Regions from separate parts of the Homo sapiens genome. Here region 1 is linked to region 2. Evidence: fine-mapped expression QTL. A gene starts in region 2. The other region holds a variant in brackets. All regions are shown on one strand. Distances are between the middles of the regions.

Evidence for each region. PIP is the estimated chance that this variant, and not a neighbour inherited with it, causes the effect. A credible set is the group of variants that fine-mapping cannot tell apart.
Region 1: its variant is the best candidate, but not a certain one, in a credible set for the expression of FGF22 in esophagus mucosa (GTEx, PIP 0.66).

Annotation. Positions count from the first base shown.
Region 1 is chr19:614,913-620,264 of GRCh38, reverse strand. It overlaps HCN2 (hyperpolarization activated cyclic nucleotide gated potassium and sodium channel 2), which reads right to left. Exons shown (of 8, transcript NM_001194.4): 8 at 3,106-4,470. The coding sequence ends at 3,791. POLRMT (RNA polymerase mitochondrial) reads left to right here. Exons shown (of 21, transcript NM_005035.4): 12 at 185-307; 13 at 500-679; 14 at 969-1,055; 15 at 1,155-1,268; 16 at 1,505-1,560; 17 at 1,679-1,777; 18 at 2,416-2,488; 19 at 2,610-2,695; 20 at 2,785-2,846; 21 at 2,942-3,044. The coding sequence ends at 2,991. Among named protein-coding and RNA genes, the nearest start is that of POLRMT, 16 kb to the left of the region's middle. The variant C/T (reference allele first, on the strand shown) is at 2,651.
Region 2 is chr19:636,843-642,201 of GRCh38, reverse strand. FGF22 (fibroblast growth factor 22) reads right to left here and starts at 2,323. Exons shown (of 3, transcript NM_020637.2): 1 at 2,063-2,323. The coding sequence starts at 2,276. LOC105372234 (a long non-coding RNA gene) reads right to left here. Exons shown (of 2, transcript XR_936226.2): 2 at 3,896-5,359. RefSeq lists a silencer at 2,151-2,640 and enhancers at 2,982-3,707, 5,082-5,141.

The sequences.
Region 1 (5,352 bases), 22 kb after region 2:
GGAGGTGGTCCTAGAGTGTGCGGGAGCCATGGCTCCTGGTCTCTCCCGGGAGCGTGCGGGGGCTCCGGTGCACTTGGCTGGGGGGTGCACGGCCCTAGGAACGGCTCGACCTGGGGGGTGGTTTGGGGTCCCACACGTCTCTGCCTCTCTAGCTTCCATCTCCCGTTTGCCGCCCCTTCCTCAGGACGGCTCTTGCAACGGCCTGCAGCATTATGCTGCTCTGGGCCGCGACAGCGTGGGCGCCGCCTCCGTCAACCTGGAGCCCTCGGATGTGCCGCAGGACGTGTACAGCGGCGTGGCCGCGCAGGTAGGGTGTGCCCTGCTGCCCGGGGGCATCTCGGCGTGGGGGCAATGTGAGCCCTGAGTCTCGGCCCCAGGTGCCCTCACCTTGGCCTGTCCTGAGGATGTGGTGGGGCTGGGGCGGGGGCTTCATGGGTGCTTGGTGGCCCCTGGGCTGCTAGCGGGGCTGACCCGCGCCCCCGGCCCACCCGCCGTGCAGGTGGAGGTGTTCCGTAGGCAGGACGCCCAGCGGGGCATGCGGGTGGCACAGGTGCTGGAAGGTTTCATCACCCGCAAGGTGGTGAAGCAGACGGTGATGACGGTGGTGTACGGGGTCACGCGCTATGGCGGGCGCCTGCAGATTGAGAAGCGCCTCCGGGAGCTGAGCGACTTTCCCCAGGTGCGCCAGGCATGTCGCGCTGCGAACACGTTGGTTTCACTGCCATTTAAAACTCAGACGGGTGTGCCCCCGACCCAGCCTCCCAGCAGGAGCCCTGGCTGCTCCCCCAGACCACTGGCTGCCTGTTAGGGCTTGGGCGTTTCTTGCTGACTGCGTGGGCGCCAGGCCCCATTCCCCTGCCCCCCTGCTAGGCCCTAGGCCTTGGGCCTCAGTGGCTCTGAAATAGGGGGGAGTAGGGCGTGAACGGGCCAGCCCCTGAGGACCTGCACCTGCTGCCCGCCCTCTGCAGGAGTTCGTGTGGGAGGCCTCTCACTATCTCGTACGCCAGGTCTTCAAGAGTCTACAGGAGATGTTCTCGGGGACCCGGGCCATCCAGGTACGTCCTGTCCTGTCCCCGCTCGGCCAGGACTCCCTAAGCAAGTGGACGGGATCCCCGGCCTGAGCCCCCTGCCCTGAGACGGCCTGTGTCCCACAGCACTGGCTGACCGAGAGTGCCCGCCTCATCTCCCACATGGGCTCTGTGGTGGAGTGGGTCACACCCCTGGGCGTCCCCGTCATCCAGCCCTATCGCCTGGACTCCAAGGTCAAGGTCAGTGTACCACCCCATCCCTCCCCAGTGTGCCACCATCCCAGTGTAACAGCGTCCCAGTGTACCAGTGCCCCAGCGTACCACCACCCCAGTGTACCACCGCCCCAGTGTGCCACCCCATCCCGCGCCAGTGTGCCACCATCCTAGCGTGCCACTACCCCAGTGTACCACCACCTCAATGTACCACCACCGTGCTGGGCCTCGGGTGGGACTCACCGGCCCCTTCCCCTTTTTAGCAAATAGGAGGTGGAATTCAGAGCATCACCTACACCCACAACGGAGACATCAGCCGGTGAGTGGGGGGCCCGGGCTGGGGCCTGGCCGGGGGTCTGGAGAGCAGCCACGGTGGAGACAGCGGCCAGTTAGGGGTGTCCCTGGGCCGCCCCCACCGGCACCTGTTCCGTCCTCAGAAAGCCCAACACACGTAAGCAGAAGAACGGCTTCCCGCCCAACTTCATCCACTCGCTGGACTCCTCCCACATGATGCTCACCGCCCTGCACTGCTACAGGTGGGCGTCTCCGGACGGCGTGGGTGCCGCTCGCCTCCCAGGGGCGTCTTCTGGCTAGCAGGGCACAGCTGGCAAGGCTGGGTCTAGCTGGGGGCAGGGACTGGGCAGAGTGGATCTGCTGTGTCTGTGGGGCCTGTGTAGAGGCCCTGAGGCTGTGTGCCCCGAATGTAGGTGGTCCTGGCAGCTCCCCTCCTGTGGCCCGACAGGGAGAGCCGAGCATGGGCGCTGCCCCTTCCTGCTGGGCATTTCTTGGCACCGCGATGTGTGGTTAGATCTGGAGCACGTGGAGGTCGTTCCAGCAGAATCTACCGGCCACGGGAGCTGGGAATGCTCAGGATGCGGGGTGGTGGCCCTGGCAGGAGGGGACCTCGTAGCCGCCCTCGGAGCTGAGGCTCCCACAGCAGCGTGGGGGGCGGCAGGGGTGGGGCGAGGAGGCTTCTGGGAACATTTCCTCCCCCTGTACTGATACCTAACCCAGGATGTTTGGGGAGGGGCGGGGCGAGGGGTGGGGCGAGGCCTGCAGGAGGGTGGGCTTCCCTGGACCTCAAGTGGAGGGGGCTGAGCGCAGGGCCAGGATGCTGGTCACTGGGTGGCCCTGTGAGCTCCCCTCCCTTCAGGAGTCCTCCGCTCTGCCACAGGAAGGGCCTGACCTTCGTCTCTGTGCACGACTGTTACTGGACTCACGCAGCTGATGTCTCCGTCATGAACCAGGTGCCCCCGTAGTCTGAGCCTCAGTCCACCCATGGGTGGGGCCCCCACACTGGGGCGTTGGGTAGGGGTGGTGCCCAGAGCCTGCCTGATCACCCCTGGGGATCCTCTGACTCCTGCCCAGGTGTGCCGGGAGCAGTTTGTCCGCTTGCACAGCGAGCCCAT[C/T]CTGCAGGACCTGTCCAGATTCCTGGTCAAGCGGTTCTGCTCTGAGTAAGGCGCTCCCTGACCCCAACTACCTGGATTCCCCCCCCACCCCAAAACCTGGCCTCAGCCTCACCCCACCCTGCTTCCAACCCCAGGCCCCAGAAGATCTTGGAGGCCAGCCAGCTGAAGGAGACACTGCAGGCGGTGCCCAAGCCAGGTAGGCGGGTGGGCAGCCTCGCAAGGGTGGCTCGAACTGCGGGCCAGGGCGGGGCTTTCCCGCCACCCACGCCGTCCGCTCTGCTTCCTCCGCAGGGGCCTTCGACCTGGAGCAGGTGAAGCGTTCCACCTACTTCTTCAGCTGACACCCCGTGAGCCTTGTCAGTGTGTAAATAAAGCTCTTTTGCCACCCCCAGGAGCCACTGTCTTCAGGAAGGGTGCACGCCCTGCGGGTCTCGGGCAATCACACGCGGCCAGGCTTGGCGCCAATGCTGTCGTTTATTGCGCGGAATGGGGGTGTGGGGGTTAATGGGGCGTGGGGGGCCACGGTGGGGGCACTGCTGCCTCGGCTCGTCAGTACATTCATCACGGCGGCGGGACCCCAGCCTCCCCCCCGCGCCCTGCGCAGCCAGGCCTGCCTCTCGGTGCCAGTGCTGGAGGGAGGCGGGGTGCTGCTCCCCGAGGTCACCGGGGGACGCGCGCGGACGGGGGCCGGGCCGGTTATTGCGTGAGCGCGATGGGGGCAGCGGGAAGCCGGCGGGCCAAGTATTGCACTTAGAAAACGATCCTCCTCGGACGGGGGCCACCTAGAGGGTGGGGGGCGGGCGGGGCTCCACAGCCGGCTCCTCTCAGCCACTGGGCCGCCCCGTCCCTGTCTTACAGCTGGGGGAACTGAGGCACCGAGGTGAAGGGAGCCCCCTCGCACGCGAGGCCGCCGCCGGGGGCAGGGGCGATGGGGGTGGGCGCGGGGCGATGAGGGGGGACGGCCGGGGGCGCGGAGGGGGCTGCCCCGCCGGCCCTGCCCGTCCGTCCAACTACGGCTACCTACGTCTCGTCTATGGCTTCTGGGCGGACTGGCGGCCGGGGCAGCGCAATGGCATGGCTTTGGTCTGGATGACGGCCCCGCCCCCGGCCCGCCTGGGCCCGCGGGGCGGTCGGCGAGGGTCACAAGTTGGACGAGAGGCGCGAGCGCGCGGAGTCCTGGGGGTCCAGGCCGCCGGCGGCGCCGGGTGAGGCCGAGTCCCTGCGGTCCGGGCTGGGCGCGGCGGCCCGGGCAGCGGGCGTGGGCCCCAAGCGCGGTGTGGAGCTGCTGGCCGGGCGTGTGGAGGCCGCGGGGCCGGGGGCGCCGTGAGGCAGCGAGGGCTGCGAGGCGGACAGTGGGCGCGACGCGCGGCTCAGGCGGCGCGCGGGCAGGGCGGGCCCAGCAAGGGGGGCGGCGGGCAGGCCGCCGTAGGGCGAGGTCCGCGGTGCCCGGGGGCTGGCGGGCGCGCCCGGGGGGCTGGCGGGGGGCGGGGGCCCGGGTGAGGCGGCGGCAGGTGCGGGCCCCGGGGGCGGGCGGCGCACGAGGCGCGGCGAGCCGAGCGCCAGCGGCCCCACGAGCGGCCGCGCCACCTGCGGGCAGAAGCTCATGGCCGCCGCCTGCTGCAGCGTGGCGATGGCCGAGGTGACCTGCGGCGGCGGCGGCGGCGGCGGGAAGAGGCCCACGCGCTGACCCAGCTCGGCCTGCTGCACCATCTCGCGGTCGTACTTGACGATCTCCTGGATGATGGCGTTCTCCTGGTTGTTGAATACGCCCGAGTTGAGGTCATGCTGCACCTTGTGCAGGAGGATGGAATTCTTCTTGCCTGCGGGAGAGGGGGCGTTAGCGTGTGCACAGGGAGCGCCTGCTGCGTACAGCGGGCACCGAGCACCTACTCTGCACCGCGGGTGCGCACACAGTGCTTGCCGTGTAGAGCAAGCATGCATTTACCACCTACTGTATACAATAAGCACATATGTAGCATCTCTGGCCTATAGTATGGATATTGAGTACCTGCCATATACAGGCTGAGCACCTGCTATGCACAGCCAGCATGCATGAAGCACCTGCATACAGAAAGCAGGGCTTTTGTTTTGCTTTGTTTCTGAGACGGAGTCTTGCTCTGTCGCCCGGGCTGGAGTGCAGTGGCGCGATCTCGGCCCACTGCAAGGTCCACCTCCCGGGTTCACACCATTCTCCTGCCTCATCCTCCCGAGTAGCTGGGACTACAGGCGCCCGCCACCACACCCGGCTAATTTTTTGTATTTTTTTTTTAGTAGAGACGGGGTTTCACCATGTTAGCCAGGATGGTCTCAATCTCCTGACCTCGTGATCCACCCACCTTGGCCTCCGAAAGTGCTGGGACTACAGGCGTGAGCCACCGCGCCTGGCAGTAAACAGGTATTTAATGCCTGCTGTGTACATGGAGCAGGTATCACTGTGCACCAAGTATGCATGTGTACCACCTGTATACGCTGATTATGTAATGACTGCCTCCAGTGTGCCACAGGCATACCGAAAACACCTGCCTGTACACAGCCTGTGCTGAGCACCTGCTGTATACAGAAGTTATAACCTAAGCACCTGATACTCAGGAACGGGTTGCATACTCACTGTATAGAGCAAGTTGTGGAGAGCTTCCTACTGTACACCAGGGAGCTCCCTGACACCACTCCGTCGCACCTGTCCTGCGTTTCAGCCATGGTCT
Region 2 (5,359 bases):
CTGCCCGGCCCACGCACAGTCACTGGGACTCCGGACTGGGACTCTGGACTGGAGGCCGGGCTGGCAGTGGCCTAGAGTGGGACACCGGTGGTTTATGGGACACCACAGACATGCTTGAGCGCCGACTGTATGCCAGCTGTCCTACCAAGCCCGCTCAGCAGCCCACGTTGCAGAGGGGCCAGTTGAGGCCTGGGAGTGGCAGAGCCAGATTTGGACGCCATCGTCTGTGGGTAGCCCTGGGTGAGCCCTGCCCCACCCTGAGCTGAAGTGTCTTGTCCAGCAAGGACCCTGGGGCCAGCCGCCACTCCTCACCCACACTCGCTCACCCCGGCCTGGGTGTCTGCCGCTTTGTCAGCTGGGTGTACAGTTCCCTGCGTGCCCGGCCAGCTCCCTGTCAAAGTGAAAGCTCCTCGGGGCAGCCTCCCAGCCCGACCTTCCAGGACACACAGGAACGTCTTTGAGGTGGTTGTTCTGGGGCGTCTGTGTCACGATCTCCCCTGGCCCCTTCCTCGCCCTGCACCTCCCCTCCCCTGGCAAGGTGCCTCCCAACACCGCCGTTCACTGTTCTGCGCACCCACCTGCACCCTTGTTCACGTCATTCACTGTTCTTTTTTTTTTTTTTTTTTTGAGACGGAGTCTCGCTCTGTCGCCCAGGGTGGAGGGCAGTGGCGCGATCTCAGCTCACTGCAAGCTCCACCTCCCGGCTTCACGTCATTCTCCTGCCTCAGCCTCCCGAGTAGCTGGGACTACAGGCGCCCGCCACCACACCCGGCTAATTTTTGTATTTTTGGTAGAGACGGGGTTTCACCGTGTTAGCCGGGATGGTCTCGATCTCCTGACCTCGTGATCTGCCCGCCTCGGCCTCCCAAAGTGCTGGGATTACCGACGTGAGCCACTGCACCCGGCCAACCGTTCACTGTTCTGTGCACCCACCTGCGCCCTTGTTCACGTGTCTAACTGCTGCGCGCCTCTGCTCTGGGAGCCCCAGGAGGGTGGGCGTCTCTGTCACCACTGGGTCCCCCATGCGGAGCACAGCACCCACAAGGTGCCCGATTAGTGACCAGCGAATGCACGAAGGGCAGGAGAGCCCTCAGCTAGCCCTCACCCCCATCACCGTCCAGCTGGGGAAACCGAGGCTTGGAGAGAGGCAGAGACTGTTCCAGGTCAGGCAGCGGAGCCAGGCCTCTGCCCCGGCCCGAGGCCACCCCGCCTGGCCATGCCCGCCATGGATGGACCGGCCCAGCCAGTCCCCTGTCCGCCCTCGTCACGTGCGGCCTAATGAGGGCCTTGGCGCCCAGATGAAAGCGGTGGGAAGGACAGGGGGTGATTACCTGCCCTGATGGTGGTGATTCAGGCGGCAGCCAGCGGGCCCGGGCCCCCTTCCCAGTGCCCCCCGCCCGGCGGGGACACCGACTCCCCTGGCCTCCAGGTACCCACATCCCCTGCTGTGCCCAGCCTCTCCTCTTGCTCCTGACATTCCACAAACACTGAGGGCCTACCTCAGTGTGCTCGGCAGACCCTGGGGACAGAGACGCCCGCTCCGTGACGTCCTGGGCCCTGTGGGGACCCAGCTCCGCCACCCCTGTCAGTGTGACCCTGGGCAGGTCCCATCCCTTCTGTGTGCCTCCTTGTCCTCACCTGCCAGATGGGGTGTCTGGGAAGAAGCAGAGGGGGCCCCGACTCAGGCAGCCCTGACTGGATTCTGTGATGTCAGGAGTCCGGAGGTCAGCCCCCCGCCGCTTCCGCCATGCAGCTGGGCCTGCCCCAGCCCCTCTGGAGCCTCAGTTTCCCACCTGCAGATGGGTGGCCCCACCCACAGGGTTGTACCACACGGACGCTTCTCTGCCCCTGAGCCGGGTCCGCCGCTGCAGCCTTCGCTTTAACAGTGCAACCCTCCCACCAGGCAGGCTGCACCCATCTCACAGACCACGGAAACTGAGGCCGAGGCTGCACAGAGGAGCCTCCGGGACTCCCCCGCGGGCGCAGGTCACCGTGAAGACGGCGGCCGCGTTGCCGTCACCCGCCGCCTCCCCACCCCAGGCCCCCGCCGCCCCGCACTCACTGTCCTGGCCGTGGCGCCAGCGGGTGCCCTGCACGCGGCCGCCGGGATCCACGCGCAGGAAGAAGTGAGTGGAGGAGAAGAGGCGCCGCCAGCGCACGTCGCCCTCCAGGTGCGGGTAGCTGCGCGGTCCCCGCGACGCGCTCGGGGTTCCCGCGGCGTCCGGCGCCCGCGCCAGCAGCAGCCAGGCCAGGCCCAGCCACAGGCGGCGGCGCATGACCCGGCACCCGGTTCGCTGCGCGCTCGTCGCTCCCGGGCGTCCGCGGCTCTGCCTTCGCGCGGCGGGGCCAATGGGGCGCCTCGGGGGCGGGGCCGGGTTCGCTGGGGCGGGGACGCCGGCCAATGGGGTGCCTCGGGGCGGGGGCGGGGTCCACTTGGGCGGGACCAGGCTAGGGCGCCGGCCAATGGGACGTCTCGGGGGCGGGGGCCAGGTGCACAGGGGCGCGGCCGTGCGGGACTCCGCGCTCGGCCTCCGCGCGTTTGTTGTTTGTCTCGCGGGGCGTGTCCGTGAGTCAGCCGAGTCCCCGGGCGGGCTAGGACCTCGGGTTGCGGGGGCGGGAGTGTGAGACGCGGGCCGCAGAGACCTGGAGGGAGACAGAGACCCGGAGGGAGACAGAGACAGAAAGACGGCGGCAGTCAAGAGACACAAGGAAGATGACCGGGAGAGACGAGAGAGACACAGAGACAGAGAGGGGCAGAGGCGGAGATGCTTGGGGACAGAGATGGACACGGGAGGTCCTGCCGCGTGCGTCAGCCGTGGGACCAGCCAGGCTCCGGGGCATGCCCTCGTGGGACTTCTCTCCCCGCAAATTGTAGTTTCCCGAAAGCCAGGCCCACAAGGGTGTGGGAATGCGCGGGTGGGTGGGCAGGTGACGACTGGGGACGTGTGTTTGGGCAGGTAGGTGGGCAGGAGGGAGGATAGCCACGTAGACCTGTCGGTGGCCGGCTGGCGGGGCACGTCGGAGGCGGCAGGAATGGGGCGGCCCCATTCGCACCCACACTTGCTCCTCCCTTAGAGCCATACCCCAGGCCCCACGGGGAACCACCCAGCAAGGCGGCTGGCCCCCACCCTTCCTCTGCCTGCCCCATGCGCTGGGCCCCAAAAGGTGAGCACAGTGACCCTCACAGACTCACAGCCAAGTGGAGGCATTGACAACTGGGGAAACCGAGGCCTGAGAGGGGCGGCGACCTCCGCTGTGGGGACACAGCTCCCAGCAGCCCAGTCCTGGCCCTGCGGCCACAGCCCCAGGTGGCACCCACCTTTAAATAGCACCAGGCTGAAGACATGGCGACCAGCCTGTCCTGCCGGGGAGCCCTCTGGAGGGATAACCGGTCTGGCTGGACGCTGGGATGCCTTCTTGGTGGCTCAGGCATCTCCTGACCCTCTCTTCCTGGCTTAGGCGGGTCACACAGAGGGTGTGGCAGGTGCCACAGTCTCAGGGACAGGGGTCCCCATGGCTGAGGTCCAGCCTGGCCTGGCTTCCCACACTAGAGCCCTGTGGCCAACACCCCAAGCTTCGGTTCCGCCTCTGTAAAATGGGCCAGTAAAGAGACGTCTGGAGGAAGACAATGAGACCCTCCACGGAGCACGCTGGGCAGAGGGCGCGGCACCAGACACTGAAGAAATGTCCACCGCCTTCTCGCCAGCAGGAGCCCAGGTCTTCCCTTCTTAGAGTGTCCGCCCCCCACCGCGGAAGGGTGATCTGAGGGCCTTGTGAGAAATGATGGGGATGGGACCCACAGCGGTGAGACTGGCCCCACCCCAGGCGTCTGAGTTTCTTTAATGACACCTCGGAAACATCACTCATATACCACACAATTCACCCACTTACACTGTACAGTTCAGTGATTTTATTTTATTATTATTTCTTTGAGACGGAGTCTGGCTCTGTCACCCAGACTGGAGTGCAGTGGTGCGATCTCGGCTCACTGCAAACTCTGCCTCCCTGGTTCAAGCGATTCTCCTGCCTCAGCCTCCTGAGTAGCTGGGATTACAGGCACCTGCCACCACACCCAGCTAATTTTTGTATTTTTAGTAGAGACAGAGTTTTACCATGTTGGCCAGGCTGGTCTCAAACTCCTGACCTCGTGATCTACCTGCTTCTGCCTCCCAAAGTGCTGGGATTACAGGCATGAGCCACTGCACCCAGCCAGTTCAGTGATTTTAGTACCTCGTAGAGTTGTGCAACCACCACGACTGTCTAGTTCCAGAAGATTCCATCACCGCAAGAAGAAGCCCCATCAGCTGTCACTCATCCCCTCTGCCAGCCCCCGGCACCCACACATCCCCTTCCTGCCTCTGTGGATGGGCCTGTTGTGGACATTTCATATAAAGGGGATCACACACTGTGTGTCCTTCTGTGTCTGGCGTCTTTCACTGAGCATGACATCCTCAAGGTGCATCCGCGCTGTGGCTGGGGCAGAGCCTTGCTCCTTTTCACGCCTGTAATCCCAGCTACTCAGGAGGCTGAGGCAGGAGAATCTATACAACCCAGGAGGCGGAGGTTGCAATGAGCTGAGATCATGCCACTGCCCTCCAGCCTGGGCGACAGAGCGAGACTCTGTCTCAAACAAAAACAACAACAACAAACACCGATCAGGGCTGGGCTGGCGCACGCTTTGTATTGAGTGGTGTCTTCCTCTTTGTAGCCTCTGTGGTTGGCCCAAAGGTAAGTCCCCACCCTGATCCCTAGAATGTGACATTTGCCTTATTTGGAAAAAGAGTCTCAATATATTGACACCATGAAGATCTGAACGATATGGAGAAGATTGTCCTGGGGCATCCTAAACGCGGTCACAATACGGAGACAGGAGGAGATTTCACACAGGCAGACGAGGAGGCTGCAGTGCGACCACAGAGACCGAGACGGGAGTGATGTGGCCGCAGGCCAAGCACACCTGGAGCCTTCAAAAGCTGGGAGAGGCAGGAAGGAGCCCCAGGGCCTCTGGAGGGAGCGAGGCCTCCACACACCTTGACTTCAGCCCCGCAGTCCTGATTTTGGACTTTTCATTTCCAGAAATGTAAGAAAATGAACGTTGCTTTAAGGCACCGAGTTTGTGGTAATTTGTCACAGGGGCTCCAGGGACCTGGGCCATCCCCTTCCATCTAGCGATTCTCGACTCTGTGGGGTTTGCTTGGTTGGGTTTTGTTTTGTTTTGTTTTTAGACAGAGTCTCGCTCTGTCGCCCAGGCCGGAGGGCAGTGGTGTGATCTCGGCTCCCTGCAACCTCCGCCTCCCGGGTTCAAGTGATTCTTCTGCCTCAGCCTCCTGAATAGCTGGGATTACAGGCACCCACCATG